Homo sapiens: one gene and its partners. The protein of the gene in region 1 purifies or fractionates together with the protein of each later gene. This does not show direct contact. Each region holds a gene or a part of one and is shown in the gene's direction. Other genes may lie near its edges. The genes, in order: PPP1R3A, CCDC85C, PPP1R10, PPP1R9A, PPP1R2, DNAAF10 and KIF18A.

Evidence for each region.
Region 2: the proteins of PPP1R3A (region 1) and CCDC85C purify together in Homo sapiens (affinity purification with mass spectrometry, with the first as the bait; one large-scale study listed by BioGRID). This does not show direct contact.
Region 3: the proteins of PPP1R3A (region 1) and PPP1R10 purify together in Homo sapiens (affinity purification with mass spectrometry, with the first as the bait; one large-scale study listed by BioGRID). This does not show direct contact.
Region 4: the proteins of PPP1R3A (region 1) and PPP1R9A purify together in Homo sapiens (affinity purification with mass spectrometry, with the first as the bait; one large-scale study listed by BioGRID). This does not show direct contact.
Region 5: the proteins of PPP1R3A (region 1) and PPP1R2 purify together in Homo sapiens (affinity purification with mass spectrometry, with the first as the bait; one large-scale study listed by BioGRID). This does not show direct contact.
Region 6: the proteins of PPP1R3A (region 1) and DNAAF10 purify together in Homo sapiens (affinity purification with mass spectrometry, with the first as the bait; one large-scale study listed by BioGRID). This does not show direct contact.
Region 7: the proteins of PPP1R3A (region 1) and KIF18A purify together in Homo sapiens (affinity purification with mass spectrometry, with the first as the bait; one large-scale study listed by BioGRID). This does not show direct contact.

What each region holds. Positions count from the first base shown.
Region 1 is NC_000007.14:113,912,510-113,916,009, reverse strand, and holds part of PPP1R3A (protein phosphatase 1 regulatory subunit 3A), read left to right. Parts: intron 1-3,500. UniProt on the Homo sapiens protein: Seems to act as a glycogen-targeting subunit for PP1. PP1 is essential for cell division, and participates in the regulation of glycogen metabolism, muscle contractility and protein synthesis.
Region 2 is NC_000014.9:99,594,208-99,597,707, reverse strand, and holds part of CCDC85C (coiled-coil domain-containing protein 85C), read left to right. Parts: intron 1-3,500. UniProt on the Homo sapiens protein: May play a role in cell-cell adhesion and epithelium development through its interaction with proteins of the beta-catenin family. May play an important role in cortical development, especially in the maintenance of radial glia.
Region 3 is NC_000006.12:30,607,244-30,610,743, reverse strand, and holds part of PPP1R10 (serine/threonine-protein phosphatase 1 regulatory subunit 10), read left to right. Parts: intron 1-788; 5' UTR 789-799; coding exon 800-906; intron 907-1,580; coding exon 1,581-1,667; intron 1,668-1,829; coding exon 1,830-1,965; intron 1,966-2,852; coding exon 2,853-2,904; intron 2,905-3,500.
Region 4 is NC_000007.14:95,250,094-95,253,593, forward strand, and holds part of PPP1R9A (neurabin-1), read left to right. Parts: coding exon 1-162; intron 163-1,668; coding exon 1,669-1,765; intron 1,766-1,865; coding exon 1,866-2,037; intron 2,038-3,500. UniProt on the Homo sapiens protein: Binds to actin filaments (F-actin) and shows cross-linking activity. Binds along the sides of the F-actin. May be involved in neurite formation. Inhibits protein phosphatase 1-alpha activity.
Region 5 is NC_000003.12:195,536,826-195,540,325, reverse strand, and holds part of PPP1R2 (protein phosphatase inhibitor 2), read left to right. Parts: intron 1-3,500. UniProt on the Homo sapiens protein: Inhibitor of protein-phosphatase 1.
Region 6 is NC_000002.12:68,140,528-68,144,027, reverse strand, and holds part of DNAAF10 (dynein axonemal assembly factor 10), read left to right. Parts: intron 1-2,232; coding exon 2,233-2,334; intron 2,335-3,500. UniProt on the Homo sapiens protein: Key assembly factor specifically required for the stability of axonemal dynein heavy chains in cytoplasm.
Region 7 is NC_000011.10:28,105,357-28,109,542, reverse strand, and holds the start of KIF18A (kinesin-like protein KIF18A), read left to right. Parts: upstream 1-1,386; 5' UTR 1,387-1,479; exon of another isoform or gene 1,480-2,054; intron 2,055-4,186.

The sequences.
Region 1 (3,500 bases):
AGAACAGCATGTGCCATAATAGAATATTTATACAGCTTTTCCATGATATAATTTATATGCAATGGGGTTTCAAATATTCCTAAAACTCACACAAGAGAGCATTATCAAATTTCTAAATGAATATTGCAGTTGGATTTTATTGTGAAGAGTTTGGTTAGAGAAAAATAGCACACCTTATCGGTGTTATTTTACAAAATGTGTACTTGACTAAAATAAAAATGAACTAATACTTATTTGATCAAAAATTATAGCTACTAAAATCTCTTCTCTCCAAATAGTTACAGAATCTAAATGGGTCATTTCTGAGCATTTCTACACTTCCTATGTAGCTTAATTTGGAGGTTATTTCTTTCAGAAGGTAAAAACAGAATATATATATGTATATATATGTATGTGTATATATATGTATATGTATATATGTATGTATATGTATGTATATATGTATATGTATATATGTATATACATATACATACATATATATATATGATTTTTTCTTTATACCTGCAAATAGATTAGTAATAGTATGTAATATCAGTCATAGCTAAAATGAAAATCAGGCTGCCCTAGTGTAGAGAATAACAGCTAACTTCAATTCTTCTTAATAAAAAAGTTAATTTGCTATCAGGGTGCCTGAGATTGTATCTTCTGAAAGTGTCAATAATCCCTTCTAATAAGTATGGAATGAATGAATGTGGAAATACATTTAGGTAGGATTTCTGTTAAGTCAATCACCCACCCAGGCATTATGTTTTCTCTATGGAGATTTTTCTCATGTTAAGAGTTTGCAAATCTCCACATTGGTGTGGGTTGTCTATTTTCTTTTGATGCCTGATAGTCTGTACACTTTGGACAGAAAGAAATATGTAGAGAGAAGGGGAGGCAGAGCTTGTAACTCATAGGCATGTGATTGAGAGTGACCCAAAGATATTTAATTGCACCGAAAGGCATGCATCATGAGATACTTAAGTATCACCACATATGCTAGCAAACTAAGCAGATTCCTGATATATCTGATGGGTTTTATTTTAAAATCAATGACAAAAATGACATTGATATAAATCACATTAAATGTACATAGACAAATAAGCTAAAATGGCATGCAAAACAATATAACCTCAAAGTTAGGATTTTAGGCTTCAAAGTTAAAGATATCTGAGTTTGAATCCAAGCTCTCCTACATGCTAGCAATATGAACTTGGGCAAGTTAAGCTTGTTTTTCTGGTATGTTAATTGAGAACAACTACAGCTCTATCTCATAGGGGTTGAGATTTCGGTGAAGTAATACATATAAACTTTTAGCACAGTGTCTGGAACATAATAAGTTATCAGTAAATGTTAACTGCTGTAAAAAGACAATGGTAACTTCAGCTTTAGGTGTATCTGAAAAACTGCAAGGCTCAAGCTGCACCAAAGTTCTTCTCCTCTTTCATTTCAGGGCTTCTAAATTTTCAGCTTTGGAGAGCCATTCCTTTGTCTCTTGCAAGATTTTAATCAACAAGGAAGACTAACTGAACTGTAAATTTTCTTGAGAAATGTGTCACTTTATATATGAATTATCTTAAAGCTGGAAGAGAACTTAGGAATGTTAAAATTTCCACATTTAATAGATGAAAAAATGAAGAACTAGACCAAAAGGGATAAAAAGGCATTCATTTAGGATTGAACAGACATGCATATTAATTTCAGTAAAGTTTACACTTAGTAGCTATGTGGCTGTGGGCATATTACTTCAGAGCTCAAAGCCTCAGTTTATTCACCTGTCAAATAAGGGTCATGATGTCTAGTGTCACATTGATTAAAATAAGTTTATATACTTAAAGCTTTTAATATAGCATGTTAGACACACATGAGGATATCATCAAAAGCCCTTCATCACAATTGTCCCTTTTATTATCAAATCTTGTTCAGCTAATGTCCTGACTCTTGAACTTGCATTATTTCTCCATACATCATAGGTTTCCTTGTTTCAGGCTCCAAAACTTATTCAACAAATGTTTACTAAAGAACTGTATGTCAGGTTCTGAGTTGTTAGGCAGCAGTATCGATAACTGAGAAATGTGGCTGGAGACAGGCGCCTGTGAAGACAAGAAGAGGCCCCAAGGGAAAAGGCCTTGAAAAGCAGAGAGAAATGAAGGGAAGAGAGAAAACACCAAAACCAAGTTCAGATTCTCTGGGTATACAGTAGAAGCCATAGATAAAAAATGAAATAAGAATTATTTCCACTTGAGGTTTTCTAGAATATGTGACCTAGAGCTGACACTGTGTACTTACTGGCCTGGGGGGTGGTCTCCCTTCTCAGCATCTTGGCTTTTTTTCCCCACTGCCTGCTAAATGTATGTTCCTAATGGCTGGGTACACCGGTTGAGTTCATCTGGTTTTGTATTTTATTAAGTGAAACCAATTTATTATTTTAAGTAAAGAAACTGCATGATATAGGTGTTTGATGGTATTTATAACTTGGCCAGGTGAATGCAAATAAAGTCCTAAATGACTTTAATGCCAAAGGAGAAAATTGATTAGTCCTCAATTTTTGTACTGTAGGAAAAAAACCAGGTACGTTCAGGAACAGGAAAGAGAGAACTCCTTTCTAAAACATAATTTTAAGAATACAGAGGGTTTATCTTTCAGGGTGGTAAAATTGTGAAAATGAGGCCAAGAAAAGCATTGGGAAATGGGGTCTAAGATATGGCTACATTGTGTGTTTCAGTCAGAGCTGTTGGATTGTGAGACTTCCTTAATTTACGCATACAGTATAATCTGGGGTCCTGGAAATAGTCCAAAGAGGTGTAAATAGCCCCACGAGGCCTTTGGGACCTCACGTATGCCATAACTAACTCGTTTTGAGTCCACACTAATTGTGGAAGCTGGGTCTGTTTAAGGAGGGACCTCTGGCAAGGCCACGTGGAAACATAAAACACAGCTGTGCAGGGCCCATCAGGAGGGTGTTTGAAAGCAGCCAGCTGGTTGACAGCGAGGTGCCAACTGGCTTCAAGTTTCCTTGGAGGTCCACCAAGGCTTCATGGTTTCCTGGTTTTGTGGAAATCCATACCCCATCCTAGACTTTCCCTAGAGTGATTTTGAAACTTTTCTGAGAGAAGAGGAACAAAAGGGTATCCTCCTTCAGGGTGTCTCTCATGCTGTGGCTGAAAGGAGTCACTATGAATGCCATGCCTCAAATGGATCCTCTGGGATCTCTGAGAGCCTATCCCTCCCCACCTGAAGCCCATCTGCAGCCTGTAAAAATAAAGCAGAGCCCACTATTTCTGAGCCAAAAATGCTCCTGGCAAAAAAAGAAAAGAAAAGAAAAAAGGAAGAAGAAAAAGATGGCACCGTTATGAAGTGGGTCAACTTAGTTTTTCACCTTCCTCCACTTCTGCTAACTGTGACTCTCATCCCTATTCCAGGTTTTTACCCCTACCCCTCAACAGGAAATAATGCAGGGGAAAAGACCTCAAGGGCAGATATCTGAAGTGGATCCGATTGCCCAGGGCCCTATCAAA
Region 2 (3,500 bases), on another chromosome or scaffold:
GCATTGAGAATCCGGGGCCTGCAAGGTGGACCCAGGATGTGTGTGGGGAGATAACTCTTAGGGGGGTTAGTGCTGTGGGCAGCCCCACAGGGCAGACCCCAAAGTCCCAGCTTTTCAGACTTCAGTGCCCACAAGCAAGAGTGGCCCAGGTGGCCTGTGTTGCCTCCAGGGCTGGGGAGCGCTGTGTCAGGGGAGGTTGCGTGGACACTGAGAAGGGGCATTCCTGAATCCACTGAGGATGGGGCTTGTGGACACCCCAGACAGCTCTGGGAATCTGGTTGAGATGTGGGTTCTAAGACACGCCCCACATTACAACTGGGAAGGGAAAATGCCCAGCTTTGAATGTGTGTGTTCAATCCAATCTGGTTGAACCCAGAGCCAGGTGGGAAGCGGGACTTGACCTCACAGGTGGTAATTTGCTCTTCAGGAGGAAGGGAAGCGTCTGCGGACTTCACTGAGCATTTACTGCCTCTGAGGTCTGAGTGCCTCCTGAGCAGTGATTCTTGGAGTCTGGCTTGGGGGGTGGTGGTTCTGGAGCATCACTCTGGTGACCACTGTGGTGTGGGCTGGGCTGGGGGAGCAGTGGGTGGAAGCTGAGGGCTTCCATCGGGAGGAGGTTCTGGCCAGGAGAGTGGCCACAGGAGAGAGCCTTCTGTAGGTTCCAGACCTGGTGAGTCTGCTCCAAAGTCCTGCTCTCAGCTGCTATCTGCCTTCTCATGACCTCTGTCCTCTAGGGCAGGCGTCCTGAGCTCTTGGGTGGGGCTCAGGCAGGACAGCGCCTGTGGGAGATGCTGCCGCTCCCAGGTGGCTGCTGTGCCCTCCATCCCCAGCGCTGATGCTGCTCCCCGCTACTCCCATCCCTACATCTAGGGTGGTTGGGATCAGCGTCTGGGATCTAGGCAGGGACCACTCTGGGGTTCAGAATTCTCATCTCCCTGCTACATAACAACAAGAGACTCTATTGGCATCCCCAAAGGCTTGGGGATAGAGGAACAAACTTGTCTGCTAAAGGGACTTGATGCTTCTTTGATCATAACATGTCAGAAATGGTCCCCCTCCCCTAGGCAAGCACCCAGGATTGGACACTCATACATCCCCTGTCCTCACAGGCAGAGGGTTCTGGGCAGGCCTGGAGCCGGGTCAGCCGGGGATGGGTGCCTGTTCTTCAGCAGGTCACCGCTGACCTCCAGCTCTTGAGGGGAGCAGAGCAGAAAGATCAGGATTGTATTGACTGCCTGTAAGTGTTCTTGGGTTTGCCTTATGTGTACTGTTCAAACAGAGGCGTGGAGCATGTTTAACTACAGTAGATGGCCCTGGGGAGGAAGCGAGGGTCTGATTCCCTTTCCTTCTTCCTGATTCCTCAACGGCAGAGACATTCTGCCATTTCCTCAGTTCAAAGCTGGGCATTTTCCCTTCCCAGTTGTAATATGGGGCGTGTCTTAGAACCCATGTGGACATTTGCTGGCAGGTCTTCCCCTCTCTGCCCCTGGAAAAGCCCTTGAGTAGACTGTGTCTGCGGCTGATGGTATCTGAGAGTGGAACAAATGCCAGGCCCGGGAGAGCCGGAAACCCCTGAGCAAACTTCACAGAGTCCTAAGGCACTAAGAGACTTGAGAAAGACAGGGGCCCACCCCAGGGCCAGCCACATGGGTGCTGGAGCCCTCCCTGCCCACCTGGGGCCCTCTGTCATTACTGTCTCTTCATCTGGGAGTTTATGAGCCTGGGACTCTGGTCCTCTTGACTCCCAGCCTTGGCACAGAGTGGCAGGTTCTGAAAGTCTTTTGGATGGAACAAACGTGTGCCTGGCACTGTGCTGACAGCAACTGGGTTTTCTCTCACTCGCCTCCCACAACAGTTGCTGGTCCCCATTGGGGTCCCTGTTTCATCTAAGGAACAGGCCCAGGATGGTGAGGCAAGTTACAGCAGGGGCAGGGTGGGGCTGGGCCAGGTCAGGGACTCCCGTCCAGTTGAACCCGGAGCCTGTGCCAGCCGGTATGTCCCGGTTCCCTTGCCCTGTGGGTGTGATTATTCATCATGCCCCTTTCCCTCAAGGAAATGCCCAGGTTGGGCTCTTAACCTCTTCAGGTGTGCTGGGAGCTCAGAGGAGGGGTGGCCGAATTGGGAACTGAGATGGGCCTTGAAGATGGAGTTAGTAAAAGCAGAAGAGAGCAGGTAAGAAGAGAGACCAGGCTTCGCAGAAAGAACAGCTGAGCTGGGCGGATCACCTGAGGTCAGGAGTTCAAGACCAGCCTAGCCAACATAGTGAAACCCCATCTCTACTAAAAATACAAAAATTAACCAGGTGTGGTGGCACGCGCCTGTAATGCCAGCTATTTGGTAGGCAGGAGAATCTCTTGAACCCAGGAGGCAGAGGTTGCAGTGAGCCATCGCGCCACTGCACTCCAGCCTGGGCCACAGAGCAAGACTCATCTCAAAACAAAACAAACCAAAACCAAAACCAAACGAAACCAAAACAAAAAGAAGAGCCGAGCAAAGTCATGCGGTGGGCATTTGCCTGCACCTTGGGTTCAGCTGGGGTGATGGATGAGTGGGGACCCAGGACAAGCACTGGGGCAGTGAGCAAGGCCAGGGCCGGTGGGGTCTTTGAAGCCTCTTCTACTGTCCCTGAAGTCCCTAGGTTGGGCTTTCCTTCGGGGTGTGGGCAGTTCTAGCTCTAACCTTTTCTGATGGACTTTCCAAGAGGACCCAGAGTTACCTGTTAGAAGTCCTATTAGAAACTGGAAACTTTTTACAGCTTATCCCCATCTTTCCCCTGCTCCCCACCTGATAAATATGCAGACACATCACCTGCTGGGCCTGAGTGGCCTTGTCAGCTGACATGCTCCCTGCCTGGGGGTCTTGGAAGATTACTAGTGTTCTGTGGATTGGACGATCCAGACAGAACCAGTGGCTTCAGCCCACTTGAGACCCAACCATGTGTAAGTCTGTGCCTCTCCCTGGGCCCTCATTTTCCCATCTGTAAAATAGGAAGCTTGGATGGGCTGAGCTGAGAGTCCCAGGGACCCTCATCTCTTCTGGCCCTTTGACTCAGAGCCACAAGGAAGGGGTGGCCTCCCCTGCCCATCCTGCCTCCTATCGGTCACTCAGTGGTCCTATGAGCCAGCTCTTTTATATTCCTGGGAATTCTCTTCCTATGCCCTACAGCCTGGGTTTTATCACCTGCCTCGTGGTTGGTCCTTGCCTTGGGGCAGGTGTGGGGATGGTGAGGCTACCTGTGACCACATGGGTCCCACTGTGGGGCCTAGAGATGGTGACCTGTCTAAACGCTGTTTGAGGCTGAGACCCTGGCCCAGACCAGCCTCCCCTCCTGCAGGGCCCCAGTGGAAGTACCTGCCTCCCCTATCTGATTGCCTCTGCTTAAAGGACTCAGTAAGGGGTTTAGTGCAAGAGGAGAACACTGAGCTTCAATTCCTGGTGCAGGTTTGCTGGGGACAAGGCTGCATGTTCCTGGACTCGAGGTTCCTCTGCTTGCTGTCCTG
Region 3 (3,500 bases), on another chromosome or scaffold:
GGACCAGATTCGCATCTTTGCTTTTGAAAGCACAAACCACTAGCTTCCTTTTAACTTAGAGACAGTAAAAACTTGTGTAGTGTTTGGCTAATGAGTGACAGTCTATTCAAGGTCTAGGAGGACCTGCTTGATTTCCATGCATCCATTTGTCTCAATCTCTGGCACCTACTCCCAGATCTCCTTAGGGAGGGATTCTGTTTTCAAGTTTTGTTTTGTTCTCCATCATCTACCACTTCAGCTGATACATATCTTGCCATGTGTAGTGATTATGACTCTTAATGGGCTAAGATAAAAAGGACTCAAGTCTTATAAGACATTTAGCTCAAACACCCAAGATTGGCCCAATTTCTATCAAGCTATAGGCTGTTTTTCAAGCCAAATTTATCAGCAACTAGGGAAGACAGGACTTAACGATAGGTGTAAATGCCCTGGAGAGTTGAACATCTTGTTATGGGAACTGATCTTAGCTTTAATACGATCTAGTGAAGTTCAGCCATCCTAGGAAGGATGCTGCTGGGAGGGAGGGACAGGTGTGCTGCCCTACTCCTCCAATCGAATTGCTTTCCTGTTCAGTCACATATGCTCCCCATGCTTAACTTGCCAGGGCTATTTTCTCAGTAGTGGCAAGTGGTCTGTGTCGATTTTTCATATCTAAAAAATAGCATAGTTGAATAATTAGTCATTATACTTTGTCAAATATAGAGATGTGGTTTATTAGAGGGCCTACTCGGGTAGTCCTTGCCACCCATTTATTCTGTGGGTTTGTTTGTTTTGTCCTCTTACCATAGAAACCACCATCATGGGTTCGGGTCCCATAGACCCCAAAGAACTTCTCAAGGGCCTGGACAGCTTCCTTAACCGAGATGGGGAAGTCAAAAGTGTGGATGGGATTTCCAAGATCTTCAGGTGAGTCTTTACCCCTTTTTGTATTCACTGTGAGTAGAGAATATTGTGTGTTAAAACATGGCTGCAGTTGAGGCACACTGGAATGATCCTGGAAAGGAAAGGGAAAGATAGTCAGTGCAATAGGATTAAAATGTAACAATTTTAGGATAAGGGATAGGAAAAGATGATCACTTGTTTCTGACCATAATGGAAACTGGAGATTTGGACGTCCACGGTCCCAAGGGAGTCATGCTTTGGAATGAGAGCAGGGTAGCCTGGTAACAGAATTCTAGATTGTTTTGGTTCGTGTTCCACCTACCCATAATGTTATTTTCCTTCAGGGATTCTCAGGTTTTTCAGGGGAGAGTAAATAACTAAGCCAGTCTTGAACAGACTATTAGGGACAGTTGTTGAGGGATAGCCTTATCACCTGGAGGCAGAATGGAATTCATCCTGTGTGTTACGGAGGCAGCGATGCTCTCCTCCCCAGGTCAGAGACTGCGGTGTCTCTGTTCTCCCATAAGTTTCCATGTCACACTGGATCCATCCCATCTTCCTAGAGGTATATGTGACTCCCCTTCTCTGGAGCAAAGTCCCAAGTCATTAGGAATCTCTAGGCAGTTCACAGAGAGGCGCTTTTGCTAAGAGAAGAGATACTGGCTGCTTCATTTCTAACCCTAACTCATCTTCTGCAGTTTGATGAAGGAAGCACGAAAGATGGTGAGTCGATGCACTTACTTGAACATTCTCCTGCAGACCCGTTCACCAGAAATATTGGTCAAGTAAGTGGGGATCTGGATGGTTGGAATGGGAAGGTGTAGCGAAAAGATGGGGCGGTGAGGCATGGGGTTCCTCGGTCATTGATGGGAGACTGGGATTGTAGGATGTGGTACTGTCAAAACCTAGAAAGGGCATTACTGATAGACTCTCCTGCCTGCCTGCAGATTTATTGACGTTGGCGGCTACAAACTTCTTAACAATTGGCTGACGTATTCAAAGACAACCAACAACATTCCCCTCCTCCAGCAAATTCTACTGACCCTGCAGCATCTACCGCTCACTGTAGACCATCTCAAGCAGGTACCTTTAGTCTTTAAACCCTGATTCTTCCTTTTTTGGTTTAGTCTAATGGATGAAAAACTCAAACTGACTGATGTGGCTGTAATCTTGGGCCTGTGAGGTAGAACAGCAGAAAAAAAATAGGAATTTAGAAGAAGAAGACTTGGTTTGAATTTATCTCCTTTAATAGGTGTGTGGCGGCTGGGCACGGTGGCTCACGCCTGTGATCCCAGCACTTTGAGAGGCTGAGGCGGGCGGATCATGAGGTCAGGAGACTGAGACCATCCTGGCTGACGTGGTGAAACCCCGTCTCCACTAAAAATACAAAAAATTAGCCAGGCATGGTGGCATGCGCCTGTAGTCCCAGCTAATCAGGAGGCTGAGGCTGGAGAATCGCTTGAACCCAGGAGGTGGAGGTTATTGTGAGCCGAGATCGCACCACTGCACTCCAGCCTGGGCGACAGAGTGAGACTTCGTCTCAAAAAAAAAAAAAAAAAAGGAATGTGTCAGCCAGGTGTGGTGGCTCACACCTGTAATCCCAACACTTTGGGATGCTGAGGTGGGTGGATTGCTTGAGCCCAGTAGTTCAAGACCAGCGTGGGCAAAAATGATAAAACTCTGTCTCTACAAAAAATACAAAAAATTTACCCAGATGTGGTGGTGCATGCCTGTAGTCTCAGTTATTTAGGAGGCTCAGGTGGGAGAATCATTTGAGCCTGGGAGGTCGAGGCTGCAGTGAGCCAAGACTGCGCCACTGCACTCTAGCCTGGGCAACAGAGTGAGACTCCGTCTCAAAAAATAAAAAAAAAAAAAAAAGCAGGGAGGACTGTAACTTTTGTCGTTTTTAGCTCTAAGTGGAATTATTTGCCTCCTGGCATTTACCTTTCTGCTGCTCCCATCTCTCATAGAACAACACAGCTAAACTGGTGAAGCAGCTGAGCAAGTCAAGTGAGGATGAAGGTAGGGTGCCACTTCTGCTCTCTCATGGGCTTTTCTCTATTACTTCCACTTAATTACCTTAATATCTTTTCCCATCCTTGGATTGTCCCTTCACTTTTCTCTTTCTACCTCACCTTGCTTTTTTTCCTTCTTTTAAAGAGAAAGTTCCTCTAACCTGTACCCTCTTTCCTGTTCTCAATTCCAAAGTTGTTCATTTCTCTGTTGCTGAATATAAGGTGCCATACTTTAACTGGAAGCTGATTCCTAAAATTGCTTGTTATAAAACACATACACTTAAAATTTGCTGTGGGAAATAGTATCATCCTAGCGTGTCTCATCTGTGAAACTCCTATTACTAAATGATAAATTATGAAATGAGTTTATAAGTGGAAATGTTGGCCAGAAGAGAGGTGCCATAGATCAGAGATGTTATTTGCCAAGTACAAAAGGAAAGAGTTACAAAGTATTTTTTCATATATTTAGAAACAAATTTTATTCTTGTTTTCACATCTATAAAGGAAAATAAAAAGTCTTCAGATTGTTGTAACAATTAGGTGTGTTATACATAAAGCAACTAACGTAGCTTTTTAAAAAAATGTCAGTTTTTGAGGAACTGG
Region 4 (3,500 bases), about 19 Mb from region 1:
AGAGAATAAGGAAAGAATGTTGAAGTTGGAAAGCTACTGGATTGAGGCCCAAACATTATGCCACACAGTGAATGAGCATCTCAAAGAGACTCAAAGCCAGTATCAGGCCTTGGAAAAGAAATACAACAAGGCAAAGAAGTTGATCAAGGATTTTCAACAAAAGTAAGCCGCTTCTAATAACTAAAGAATAGTTATGTTTGTCTAAAGAAGGTTTATGTCCAATAATTTTGTAATATCTAGTGGAACAGAAAAGATGACCTTAGAGATATCTTTCCTATCCAGGAGCATAGTTACAGCATAAATACACATTAAGTTTTGGAAGTCACTTCTATCACTTTTTCATGAGATTATGTTTTGTATATTTTATAGTTTTTGGCTGCCAGGGCCTCTTTGCTATTTTTGATAATTAATCGTTGTTTATAACTGTTAAAACATCTGAATTTCTTTATTCTTTTTGAAACACCTCTATGATTTAGAAACAAGAAGCCCAGCGGAAAGTCATGTAGAATGACTGACTATTGGATGTGGAGCACGCAAGCCACAGCTGGGGCCTGAATCAGGCTGCTCCTCTCTATTCTTAGATCAGTAACTACAGAATTTCCCACTACAGACAGTGCACATATCGACTAGCAAGGCCCCCTGCCCTGCCACTCTGCATTTCTCAGCTGTTGAGAGAATCAGGAGGGCCTCCTTTCACTGCAGGGAGAGAGACCATTACCACATTCTGCTTTTGATTTTCAACAGCTGTTTCTGAGCTACTGCTCCTTTGCTTCCATCTCTTGGATCTCGGTGTAATGTCACGGAGACTGACCACGGAGATTTTTACTAGATTTTTTTCATCAGTTACTTCTGGCTAGTTAGAACAAATAAGTAGTACCAGTACCTTTTCTGGTCTTCCATGCCAAGCCTCAGAAGCTAAGCATATATGTAAGATTAACCATATTTCTTTTATTTCCTATTATGTGGAAGAATGTTTTTAATATTTAAAAGAGTTTTGCTATCAAAAGTTTCTTGTTAAAAGGGGAGTAATTATTCTCTGTGACTATAAATTCAATACATCACTGTTTTAACTATTTGCCAAACTCTTTTTCATGAAATAATTTTATAGTAAATTTTGCTAAATTTGCATATTCTATTCCAGGTTTTCAAAATGGAACTGTTTCTCTTCTCCCCATATTATCCTTAGGTCTATAAGTGAGTGCCCCTCTCGATGTTTCTGACCCACCCAGCCCCCTCTTCACTGTTATTCATAGAAATCTTACAATTATCTTTTTCGAACTCTTATCTAGTTACATCAGTTTACTATACTATGCTTATGACATTGGAAAAATGGAATTATTTCTACCTGACAAGTAATTATCTCCACTAAATTACCCAATGTGGGTCATTAGTGCAGTCTTTCCTATCTAAATATGTATGGGTGTTCTAGAATCAGGAGCTACGAAAGAAAATTATAGTAAGCAGAATCGAATCATTTTTCTTTGCCTTGTGACCCATTAAAGATGTTTTAGTTTCTTTCATTACTATACTTTTTCCTCTAACTGATTGAATGTTGTCCATTTAAATAACTGTTCAGTTGCTTATCCTACTATGCAGTTTATTGTTTCAGATAAGAACTTTCATTTATTGAGTGTATGATATAATCAGAACTATTATTTTCTTCTTAAGAGAGCTTGATTTCATCAAAAGACAGGAAGCAGAAAGAAAGAAAATAGAAGATTTGGAAAAAGCTCATCTTGTGGAAGTGCAAGGCCTCCAAGTGCGGGTAAGTTGTGTTCCCTAAGACACTAAATAATAAGATGGTTTTGCTGTACTTGGAGGGGAGCGCTAGTTTAGAGTTTTATAAATGGATTTGTTTTTCCTAGATTAGAGATTTGGAAGCTGAGGTATTCAGGCTACTGAAGCAAAATGGGACTCAAGTTAACAATAATAACAACATCTTTGAGAGAAGAACATCTCTTGGTGAAGTCTCTAAAGGGGATACCATGGAGAACTTGGATGGCAAGCAGACATCTTGCCAAGATGGCCTAAGTCAAGGTTTGTTTAACCCAACCACAAAAATCATTTTTGATGACTGTGTAATTTGGCCTTTTATTTTTCTTTTTCTGACCCAGAGATTTAAAAGTTGGAAATACCTTCCTACTATGGGAAAGAAGAAAAGGCTTATCAAAATAGGAGTCAATCATTTTAGCTCTCGTCTTATCAAAAATAAATACTTTAATATGTAGCATTAACAAATCACAACTAAAGATAAGCCAAATACTATTTTAAAATCATCATACAATTGACAGATTTAATAAACTGCCTTACAAATTGTAGTTCATCCTATCTAGGATGAACTACACTACTTATGTGTTAATGACTAAGGTTTAGATTTTTTTTTTTTTTTTTTTTTTGAGAGTCTCACTCTGTCATCCAGGCTGGAGTACAGTGGTGCAATCTCAGCTCACTACAACCTTCGCCTCCCAGGTTCAAGCGATTCTCATGCCTCAGCCTCCCCAGTAGCTGTGACTATAGGCATGTGCTACCACGTCTGGCTAATTTTTGTATTTTTAGTAGAGGTGGGCTTTTGCCTTGTTGGCCAGGCTGGTCTCGAACTCCTGACCTCAGGTGATCCACCTGCCTTGGCTTCCTAGAGTGCTAGGATTACAGGCATGAGCCACCGCGCCCAGCCAAGCTTTAGAATGTTTAAGTCACTAGAATAAAGATCTTTTTCATAATATCAGAAGGCAGACTGCTGCTTTCAGCACTTGAGATTCATGTAGTTAACGAAGTCCATATAGTTTTGTGCTTTTACCATGGTGTACTGTGTATACTTCTTAGGTCTTTCATGTCAAAGACCAAGTAAGACCAAAACACTGGAAACATTTGGTATTATAAATGATTATCTTCATTCATACACCAACCATAAATAAATTACTTATGTTCTTACACACACAACATTCTTAGATTGCACGTGTATGAACATGAATGACTGTTTTAATATCTGTGGTATATTTGCAAATTAGAAAACACATAATAATTATAAAGATAAATACACAGGAATGTGTGGCTTCATCTTTTTAAATATATACATAGTAGTCCCTGGAAAATGAAAATAAAAGAATGTGGTGCAGCAGGGTTGTCATGACAGGACCGACAACTCAGAGGCAACACTTTGACGTGCAGTAAAACCCTGTTATAATGGGCTTTTTAGTTTTTTCGTGATCTTTCTCACATATTAAACTGTCTCCAGTGAAGTTTTCCTGATAAGCAAGTGTTTATATCCTATCATGAACTTTTAGAACTAAGCTCTTAGCCATTAAAAATGGAAAGGATTAGAAATCTTCATTTAAAATTAAAATGATATCTAGAGATTTGAATCCATTCACTGGGTTTATATCCTTCTAATGGGTTTTCCCTAAATAGGATGTAATTTATAAATAGTGCCTCTTAGGCAGCTGAAAGAGGAGGATTTAGCATTAGCATTACGACTAAGTGAGGAGCTGTGTGACTTCAGG
Region 5 (3,500 bases), on another chromosome or scaffold:
CTAAATAGGCCACGAAAAGGACACTTGTTTACAGTACAAGAGCTGAAACAAGAAAGCAGAGCGTCGCCTTGTTTGACCCCATCTGGGAACATGCTACCTCGGCTGTGAACGGTGCACTGGGCAACTCAGAATCTGCCCTGCTCTGTGGCTGTCTGTGAGCAACTGCTAACGGACCTCAAATGCTAGTTTTGGGATTACACATTTTAGCAAGTAGGTAAACTTGCAAAGAAAGAATCAGAGAATAATGAGAATGAACCCTACCTTTTATAGGTGTCTTCGTTGTGTAAAATGCGATGATAGTTTGACTCCTACCCATCCCCCAGTTGTGAGAGGATGTTATTTTACGTAAATATTACCAAGGAATTTTTAAAAATAGAATTCAAACATACTTCAGATATATGTCTGTAATTCATATATGGATGTACTACTATCATTAGATAATTCTCAAAACTCAATGTCCACTTAAAGTGAGGTTTATATAAAGCCATATTCAGATAGTCTAGCATTTCTATTTTTTTATCCAATTGTCAGGACCGATCAAACCATCATTGAGGGGGGTTTTATTTTTTTAGATGACTCAGTGCTGTTATTTTCTTATTGTTTATACTTTGCATTAGTGCTTACGTCTTTTTTTGTTTATTTTTGAGACAAGATCTCATTCTGCCACCTGGGCTGGAGTACGGTGGCACGATCACAGCGCACTGCAGCCTCCATCTCCTGCTCTCAAATGATTGTCCCACCTCAGGCCACCACACCCAGCTAATTTTTGTATTTTTTGTAGAGATGGGGTTTTAGTATATTGCTCAGGCTGGTCTCAAACTCCTGGGCTCAAGTGATCTGCCTGCCTCCCAGAGTGCTGGGATTACAGGTGAGAGCCACCATGCCCCACCAGTACTTATGTCTTTAATGAGTGGTTTCTACAGGTACCATTTGTCAGATACCAATTTTTGAGGGTTAAATTAAAACTGGATAGAATCCATAAATCCACATAACTAAGTATAGATAAATCTCAGTACATTGCACCACAGCATTCAGCTGTTTTAAACACCACTGTCATCTTCGATCATTGTGGACTTCCCATTCTTTCAGGATACCTTGAATATAGGGCACAACTTATGAAGGTCTAATTTAGCAGGCCTAGTGAGTACATATGTGTATCTTAATGAAAAGAAGACACTGTTGATTCTAAGATGTACTATCCAGGAAGAAAAAATACTGCCAGCTATGATTATAAGATGCCATCCTTTTAAGACATGTTCTTTTTCAGAGATGTGAAAATGTAAAAAATGTGTTTTGGGAATTATTGAAAATATGACAGTAAATATTGCTAAAGCCTATCATTTGAGAAGGATTATAGTTTAGTGGTTAATCTGGTGCCAGATTGCCTGGGTTTGAATCTTGTCTGCTGCTTATTAGCAAACTTTATTAGTTGTGATTTTCAGTGAATTATTCATTATATCTGTGCCTTAGTTTAAATATTAAATGAATTAATAAATGTAAAGTGCTTAACCCAGTGCCTTACCCTCAAATGTTAGTCTTATTGTAATAGAAATAAATATAGAAATTCATTTTTTCCATATCTCAGCGGGGTTTTTACACAGTCTGCTTTGGAGTTCACTATTCTGTTCAATTCAAATTCTATAGTAGTCTTAGATAATGCAGGCAAATTCTGCTTGAAAAAATTATGCCTTAATTTCCTTTGATGTAATTTAAGATATAAACAAGCTTCAACTTTGTCTTTTTCTGCCTATAAAGGGATGTGGAATATTATAGTCAGAGGTTTACTGAGTAAAATAAAAATTTGTTTTCTAAAAGTTACTTTTTGCTTACTTGTAATTGCTTTTATTGTTAAGTCTTACTTTAATTGTTCAGTAACGATATCAGGCTTCGAAGTCTTATATTGTGTCAATCTATATAAGTTGAATCTTCATTTAAAGAAAGAACCATTTCTTGAAATGTGCAATTAAAGTTAAATCACCTTGAAGCAAAATCTTGCTTCCCATTCCAGACACAGTCACAACTTATCAAATGAGCAAGTCACAAGCAACAAGAAGTTCCAGTAGGTCTTCTTAAGGTGGCACCATATGAGCTAACAAAGTAAAAGTGAGAAGCGGTGACGTTTTCAGCACCAGATTTAGGCTGTAGGAAAACCAGTCACCCAAGAGGGTGGGGGAAAACTGAAACCAGCAGGTGCTTTCACCATCATGGCAGATCTGCCATGTAAATGGTGGTGCCCCTATTTTTGTCTGCAGGGATACTGACCTCAAAGGAGGTCATACAGTTCATGATGGTACTGGGATTAAGCTCAGGCTCACTCCTTGGGTTTTGCTATTCCACAACTAATGTTAATTCTGCCATCACTTTAGAGATGCCGACTTTCATATCCAGTGTCCCCTGCTGACAGTTTCTTCTACTTCACTAACTTTCGAAGATTTCCTAGCATTTTTGGAGTCTGTTTTGTAATACCGTTATTTAAATGCTTGTTTTTGCAAGCTATTGTTGTCTTTTTTTGGATCTGAATAATTGTACTAATTTTTTTTTCTGTTAGTGTTCTGTTGAGAAAACAAGTTGAGTGAGACTTTGAATATTTAGAACTTAAAATTTCATTTACAGAAGAAAGTAAACTAAATGGCAAACAAACTGGGAAAAATTGAAGTTATATAAAATGTGGTTTATATAAATCTAAAGAGCTCAAATTTATGGGAAGATTTCTGATAGGCAAAGGATGTAAACATAATTCACATGAGGAAATTAGGCAAAGAAACAACAGTTTTAAAATACTGTTTTATACCTGCTGAAATGGAAACACACACACACACACACACACACACACACACACACACAATAGCTAATCCTAGCAATGGTTTGGTAATTTACTGGGGACGTTACAAACAGTCCTCTTTTTTTAAAAAAAAATCTGTATGGCAACATGGAGTGAACTATAAAGTTCTTAATAAACTTTAATTCAGACTCTTACACTAGCAAATTTTCTTTAAAACAGCATTGAATAGCATATATACAAATATGTTCATGTCTGCCTTATTTTAAATAGGAAAACTTATTTAGGTTATCAATCTAAATGAATCTTATACAGTCATTAAGAAGGTAAAAAAACACAAGCAACTTATACTACATATACTTAAAACTTATATATCAGCATATGTATTGTATATATACTGTATGTACTGTTTTATATGTATAGTTATATATATTTTTATGTTTTGATAGCTTATACATATTTATATGTATTATACAAAGGGAAGAATATGCTGAAATCAAAATTATGAATGGCTTAGGGTGCTGGGATTGTGTTTATTAAATTTTATTTTTAATTTCAAGAAAACTTAATTTCTGCTTGTGTTCTGTAGTTCTTTTTCTTCAATCCTTATCTTGCAAAAAATATTTACAGGATGTGGCGTTCTTTCTTTCCCATTAGAGATACTTTTTAAACTCCAGAGGTCTTTCCTCATTCTTTTTTTTATCCTAAGCAACGATGATCA
Region 6 (3,500 bases), on another chromosome or scaffold:
TTCACGAGGGGTACATGAGAAATTTGGTACCTATTATAATTGATTTGGCTAGTTGTTTAATGGCCGCTCAAGACCATGAGGAAATTGCTTTAAAGGAAAAGTGAGATATAATTTTCTAGTGGGTACTCAAGAGCAGCTGTGTTTTAGAAATCACTTATTTTTTTTAATCATAAAAGCAATATTGAGTATAGAGGGAAAAATAACATTCAGTCTACCACACTACCACAACCATTAGATTTTTCTTTTCCTTTTAGGTCTTATATATAATTTTGCATAGTTATAAGTGTGAATATGAATTTGTATCTTAGAAACTTTTTTTATTTAATGTTTTGTCATATGCAAATGTTGCTGTTTCCACAGTTATCATTTTAATGACTATATAATATTCCATCATATGGCCGTACTTAACCATTCCCTTATAAGCCTTTGGTTTGCTTTTTTTATTTGTTGTCTTATGAGAGTGGCTTAAAAATAATGAGTAAATGAGTATTGTCATATGTGTAACTCTTTTGGAATAAATATATTTTATGATTTTTTAAAAAATTTATTGGGCCAGGTACAGTCACGCCTATAATCCCACAACTTTGGGGGCTGAGGCGGGCGGATAACTTGAGACCAGGAGTTTGAGACCAGCCTGGGCAACATAGCGAAACCCTGTCTCTTCTAAAATACAAAAATTAGCCAGGTGTGGTGGCACACACCTGTAATCACAGCTACTCAGGAGGCTGAGACACAAGTTTTGCTTGAACCTGGCAGTGGGAGGTTGAAGTGGGCTGAGATCTTATCAATTTGTATGAATCCTATAGAGAAAGATAATCTCTTATCTCTATATCTGGGATTTTTTTTTTCTTTTTAAAACAGGCTTTTGGTGGGTGCAGTGGCTCATCTCTGTAATCCCAGCACTTGGGAGGCTGAGGTGGGAAGATCACTTGAAACCAGCTTGGGCAACATAGGGAGACCCCATCTTTACAAAAACTAAAAATTAGCCAGGCATGGTGGTATAGTCCCAGCTACTTGGGAGGCTGAGGTAGGAGGATCACTTGGACCCAGGAGGTCAAGGCTACAGTGAACCATGATCGCACGACTGCACTCCATCCTGGGTGACAGAGCAAGACCCTGTCTCTAAATAAATAAATATTAAAGTAAAGCAGCCTTTTAATGATCAACTTTATTTTATCCCTGGAGATAAATCTAATGTTGTACCTCCACCTTTCCTGAGTTGTTTTCCTTTTAAGGATTTTTTTTTTTTTGCCCTTTTCTTATTCTCAGGTACTTGCCTTTTAGCCATTTTATTACATGCATTTGCATTTTTTGTAGGTAGTGACACTATTTTAGTAAGTAGTCCCATAACATGAATTAAAACAAGGGGGTTGAAATTAAATTGAGAATTTGTTAATTTTATTTAACATTTTCCTCTTCACTATTGCCACAGGAAAATTAAACTTAACTGTATATGAAATAGTATTCTAGGCCAGGCACAGTGGCTCACGCCGGTAATCCCAGCACTTTGGGAAGCCCAGGCAGGTGGATCACCTGAGGTCAGGAGTTTGAGACCAGCCTGGCCAACATGGCAATACCCCATTTCTACTAAAAAAGTACAAAATTTAGCTGGGCGTGGTGGTGCATGCCTGTAGTCCCAGCTACTTGGGAGGCTGAGGACGGAGAATCGCTTAAACCCAGGAGGCGGAGGTTGCAGTGAGCCAAGATCACGCCATTGCATTCCTGGGCGACAGAGTGAGACTCCATCTCAAAACAAAAGAAAGAAAGAAAGAAAAAGAAATAGTATTCTAGAACTCACATAAGAAACCATTAATTCAAAATTAGAGTGTATTCATGCCAATGGTTAAAATGGGTAATAAGGAAAAAAGTAAAAATTAAAACAACACTGGTATTTTCCCTAAAAAATAACACATTCATTTTAGGCTCATGATTTGAATTACGTAACATTCACATTTGCCTTGTCAGTCATCACTCGTAGATAACTTAGGAACACTTGTTGGCTTTTCTGTGTGTCTATTAATTTGGAAACCAAGTCAGATAGTTACATATGGGTGATATCTCTGATATTAAATACAACTTACCCAATTAGAAGTCAGAACAATGTGGATATTTTCAGATGTCATAACATCTGTCATATTGCCATGTACACAGGAAGCCATAGAAGAAGAATGTAGAAAAGAAACATAATCATTTACTTTTGAATTTTTGCCAACTCACTTTTATGCATGGCAGGAACTGTGAAGGTGTGGGACCCAAGGCAAAAAGATGATCCTGTTGCTAATATGGAACCTGTACAAGGAGAAAACAAGAGAGACTGTTGGACTGTGGCATTTGGTAAATTATTGAAGAATTCTTGCATTTGAATTATCAGATGGTAAAAAGCACGATGCTGCAAGAAATTTCACAGTAGTCTCTTTATGGTCTGTTTTGTGGATTATTCTAATAGTTTACTGAGGCAAATACACGTGGTGGTTAATGTCAGCCTCTGGGGCCTGAGTTTGAATTCTCACCTGCTACTTATTGGCCATGTGGCCTGGAGCAAGTTACCAAAGTTATCTGTTCCTTGGATGTTTCATTTATAAAATGGAATTAATAATAGAATTTACTTAGTTGTGTTGTCATGAAGAGTCAATGAGTTAATTACATGTAAAGTGCTGAGAATTGTGCTTATTATTATGTGTTCCTGTTTAACTAGATAATATTGACCTAATTTAAAGTCAGACACCATTAATGGGGATAAACCAAGCCTCAAATGCAAACAGTTACCTAACAAATCATACATTACGCTATATACGGAGTATGTTTATTTTCTAGAAAATAGTTTGCCATTACAAAGTTATTTCTTATAAATTTTGATAACTGTATTCCTTCATTAATTTACTTAAAATGAATATTGACTTTGGAAGACTAATTGACATTTGCCCTTTGATATGGTTTGGATCTATGTCCCCACCAAATCTCATGTCCAATTGTAATCCCCAGTGTTGGAGGTGGGGCCTGGTGGGAGGTGATTAATGGGGGCGGAGTTCTCATGAATGGTTTAACACATCCTCCCGTATACTTTAAATCATCTCTAGATTACTTATAATACCTAATATAATATAAATGCTGTGTCAGTCATTGTTGTATTGTTTAGGGAATAATGACAAGCACAAGAAGTCTGTACGTTTTTAGTGTAGATGCAAATTTTTTTCCAAATATTTTCGATCCATTGTTGGTTGCCTATAGATGCAGAACCCATGGATAGGGAGGGCCAACGGTAGAAGAGAGTAATAGTAGGAATATCCTTAGAGATGGCTCAGGACAATGGCCAGAGGTGTTAGGACGGCCTGAAGATAGTTCTAAGTTTTTGATGGTGTTTGCAAGGAAGAGATGAAATCCGAGCTTTAGGAAAATGAACTAGTGGTATTTAGCGGGAGTGATGAGTGGTACAGAGAATATGAGTTCAAGAGCTCTTTGCAGTATTCCAGGGAAGACCTAAGTTACAAGCACTGAGAAGG
Region 7 (4,186 bases), on another chromosome or scaffold:
GACAAAATTTTGTGTTAGGAATTTTCTGAAAACTTCAGTTTTCTCTCAGAAAAATGAAAATAATATTACCTACGTCTCATGGGCTGTTTTGAGAATTAACTGAGAGACCATATGTAAAGGGACTAATAAAATACCTGGGAAGTCAAAACGTAAAGTACTATACAATGAGTTCTTACTGGAAATAAAGACATCTCGATTTTATTACCAAGACCAGCAGCACACAAATAACCATTTCATTAGCTAAGATACACGTAATACAGCCAAAAATAAGTAGTAGCTTTATTGATCCTCTGTCTAGTGATCAGAAACAATAATATAACATGCATCACATACAGTACACAATACTCCCGATTTTCCTCAACAGGAAATAAATGTCCATAATACAGAGGTTTCCATATATTGTTGCATTTATAATACTCTGCATGGGTATGAGTCATCCTATTTATAAAGTGATATTGAATCCACAAAATATAAGCTCCAAGAGGGAAGAGTTTGATTCCATTGCATACTATTGTGTCTAAAATCTAAATAATTGCTAAATGGATACAATAACAGTAATATATAGAACAATGAAATTCAGATACTGTTATTAAAAACACCCTGCCAAATAAAGTTATTTTAGCAAACGTATTTCCGATTTGTTCCAGGTATTTTCTCTCTTTTTAAAGTGTCTATGCTGAAATAATATCTATAACCTGGGACTTAAAAAAAATCACTTCACCTAATAATAAACCAAGCCAAAATCTTTAAATTTATTTTGTTATGCCATCATTAGACAGAGAATGTAAAAAGTAACCAAACAGAAAATAGTTTCACGGTCAGTACTAATGGGAGTAGGCCTGGAAGTCCTGAGAAATGAAGCCTGAGGCCTCAACCCAAAAGATCTCCAATTAATTCAGGTGAAGAGACCCCACATTTTGGCCCATATTAATGTGTCTGGAAGAAACAGGTCCCTACAACTTCTTGGAGGCCTCACTACTCAGAGAAAAGAAAATAAACACCCAGAACCCATTAATCCACACCCAAACTCCACCTCTCCCCCTAGCAGAGGGCATAGGCCAACCCCTGCCCGCAGCAGTCTCACTCACACCCTTAACTCTGGGACCGGGCCCTGCACCCGCCGGTCTACAGGAGGCCTGGTGATCTCAAGTGGCTGCCTCCCACCAGCAGCTCCGGCCTAGCCCCGCCCACTTTGGCCACCGCCTCCGGAAACGGCCGCGCGCGTTGCCACGGTGACGAGCAAGCAAAGAGCTTCCCCTGCGCAGCCAGGCTGAGCTTCTTGGCGCCAAGCTGCCGCGAGCCGTGACAGCGTCCGACGTGATGACATCACGCGAGCGGCAGCCAATGAAACGAAGCGCTGAGGAAAGTGGCTTGGGTTTGAATATTGTGGTTGAGTCTGAAGCGCTGGGAGGCGGACATTAAAGTGAAGTGGTTGCGGTAACCTGGCCTGGGCCTGAAGTGAGTGAGAGGCACATGAAGGTAAAACTGGACTCTGGGACGCTCCTTTTGGTGACTTGTATTATTGGGAACGGAGGGTCCTGCCGCTTCAGGTCTAGAAGACCAGGTGGGCTTCTTGACAAACACAGAAGCGTTGAGGGGTGGGGGATCAGGGTACCTGGGGAGAAAGTGAAAGGAAAAAGGGATTCGAGAACCTGCTAAGAGCACAGCTCTGCTTGACCGTAATCCTCGACTGCTCAGCTGGAAGGGCAGGGATCTCCTTAAGTCCTGAGAGGAAGTCTTAAGTTTTAAAGGGCATCTTGGCCCCTTTCCCAGACTGGCAGAGAACTTTAACTGCCCAGCACCTTGTAGTGTCAGCTTTTTTCCGGACTCCAAATTGGGAGTGTTTTGTTTCAGACTCACATATAAGCGTACCCAGGGGCTTACCTATCAAACGAGGAGCTTTTGTTCATCACTGCATAAAATTTTTGTCTGAAGAGCTTTAACTGTTAGTCTTGCACTGGTCAATCGGGAACCCCTCCTGAGCCCCAGTTGTAGGTAGCATCGAGATAAAAGCCGCTCTGACTGCCTAACGGGATTGCCGAGGATCAGATGAGGTACGGAAGAGATACTGTTTGGCAAATGCTCTGCAGATGAAATTAAACTGTAAACATTTAGAATCAGTCCTATAGTCTGTTCTTGGTTTCCGCAGGACTTTTTTTTTTTTTTAGGAGCTCATTAGTCACTCAGTTACAGAGAAGCCAAGACTGACTGCTGTTTATTATATGAGAAGAGAGTATTTGACCAGAATGAACTGATTTTGTGGTATAATATATAGTTTAGATTATGGATAATTAGGTAGAAATTTAGGCACTCTACAGATTTTAATTTTTAGTGTCATTCCACCACGTCTAGCCTCCTGTTTCGTTTTTGTAAGGTTTTTATAAACTTTGATGCTAGAGAATGTGATATCCAATGACTAGATAGTGCTTCTTATTAAGTTCATAGTTTGTAAGAACTATTTCAATAAACAAAGATTATCTACAAAGCACAATCACAAAGAAAAAAACTTAAAAGATTATCTGCCTTTAATAGTAGTAATTAATCTCCTTTTCTATTATTTATTCATTTATTTGAGACAGAGTCTCGCTCTGTGGTCCAAGCTGGAGTGCAGTGACGTGATCGCTGCTCACTGCAACCTCCACCTCCCAGGTTCAAGCAATTCTCGTGCCTCAGCCTCCCGAGTAGCTGGGATTACAGGCGTTTGCCACCACACTCGGCTAATTTTTGTATCTTTGGTAGAGACGGGGATTCACTGTGTTGGCCAGGCTGGTCTCGAACTCCTGACCTCAAGCCATCTGCCCGCCTCGGCCTCCTAAAGTGCAGGAATTACAGGTGTGAGGCAGGGCACCCAGCCCTTCCTCTTCTACTATTGAAAAGTATTTACAAATACATAATATTTTTATATTGAAAGTGCATCTTGTCCCATCATAGAAATACCCCAAATCAATTAAGAGACACGATAAAAATGATTTTTTTTTTTTTTTTTTTTTTGCTGACAACTGTGAAAACTAAGAGGAAAAAAAATAGCTCAGCTGTCAGTGCCGGCCTTCCCTCCAGTTGAACCTTTTATTCTTCCCTGATGGTTGTAAGTTGGTGGGAGTAGTGCCCCCAAGACTGATATTCCAAAAAGAGCTTTAAGATGGACTGTAGATGATAGTGTTGAGTATCGTTTTCAGTCCTATACAGTGTTTGTTGAATCTGAATCTAATTCAGGTTTGAGTTTGTATTTAATATATCATAACTGTCACTCTACTTCTGTATCATTGTTTGGAAGCATTCTCTTCTGATTCCAGTAGAACCTAGCTGTTAATAACATGGACTTTAGATTTGTACCCGTTAAGGAGTTTGTGTTTTATTCTTCTGGTGAGAAGTCATTGGAGACTTTAGAGCAGGTGAATGCCATGTGATGCATCACATGATCTGAATGCTTTTGATGAACGTATCAGTGAATACAATCAATGAATTAAATTTATTATAGTACTTTCATAAAATTAGGGGTGAATCTTTGACTGAATTGACTTATATTTGACATTTGGTTGCCCACTTGTTACGTCATCTTGGAAAAGTTACTTATCCTAAGGCTAAGTCTTTGTTTTTGTAAAATGGAAATACTACTACAACCTACCTTACGTGATTATTATAAGGATTGAATGCAATGACGAATGTCAAGTGTTTACTATAATGCATGAGACAGAGTGTACATACTCAAATGAAAAGCATTGTTGTTCATTATTAATAATTATCACCATATCAACCTAATCTAAGCATTGTTAAAGCATACTTATTGAGAATGGCCACTCTGTGATATCTGACAAGTACAGAGAAATCATAATCAGTTTTATTTTCACATTCAAGAGCTCCTGTGCCAGGCCCTGAGGTTTCTATCAAAAGTAAGGAAATATAAGAGAGTGGTACCAGAAGCTGAGTTTTGGGGGAAATAGGGAGATTTTGGTCAAAGGGTACACTTTAAGTTATAAGATAAATAAGTTCATGGCATTTAATGTACAGCATCAATGGTGATAGACGTATTAATTTAATTGTGGTAATCATTCCATTGTGTATAAGAATATGAGACCATCACATTGTACATCTTCGTTTTATACAATCTTTGCCAATTAAATGTTTTAAAATTTCTAAAAAAGTAAGCAATATATATATTTTTAACTTCTATAAGAAAATTTCTGAG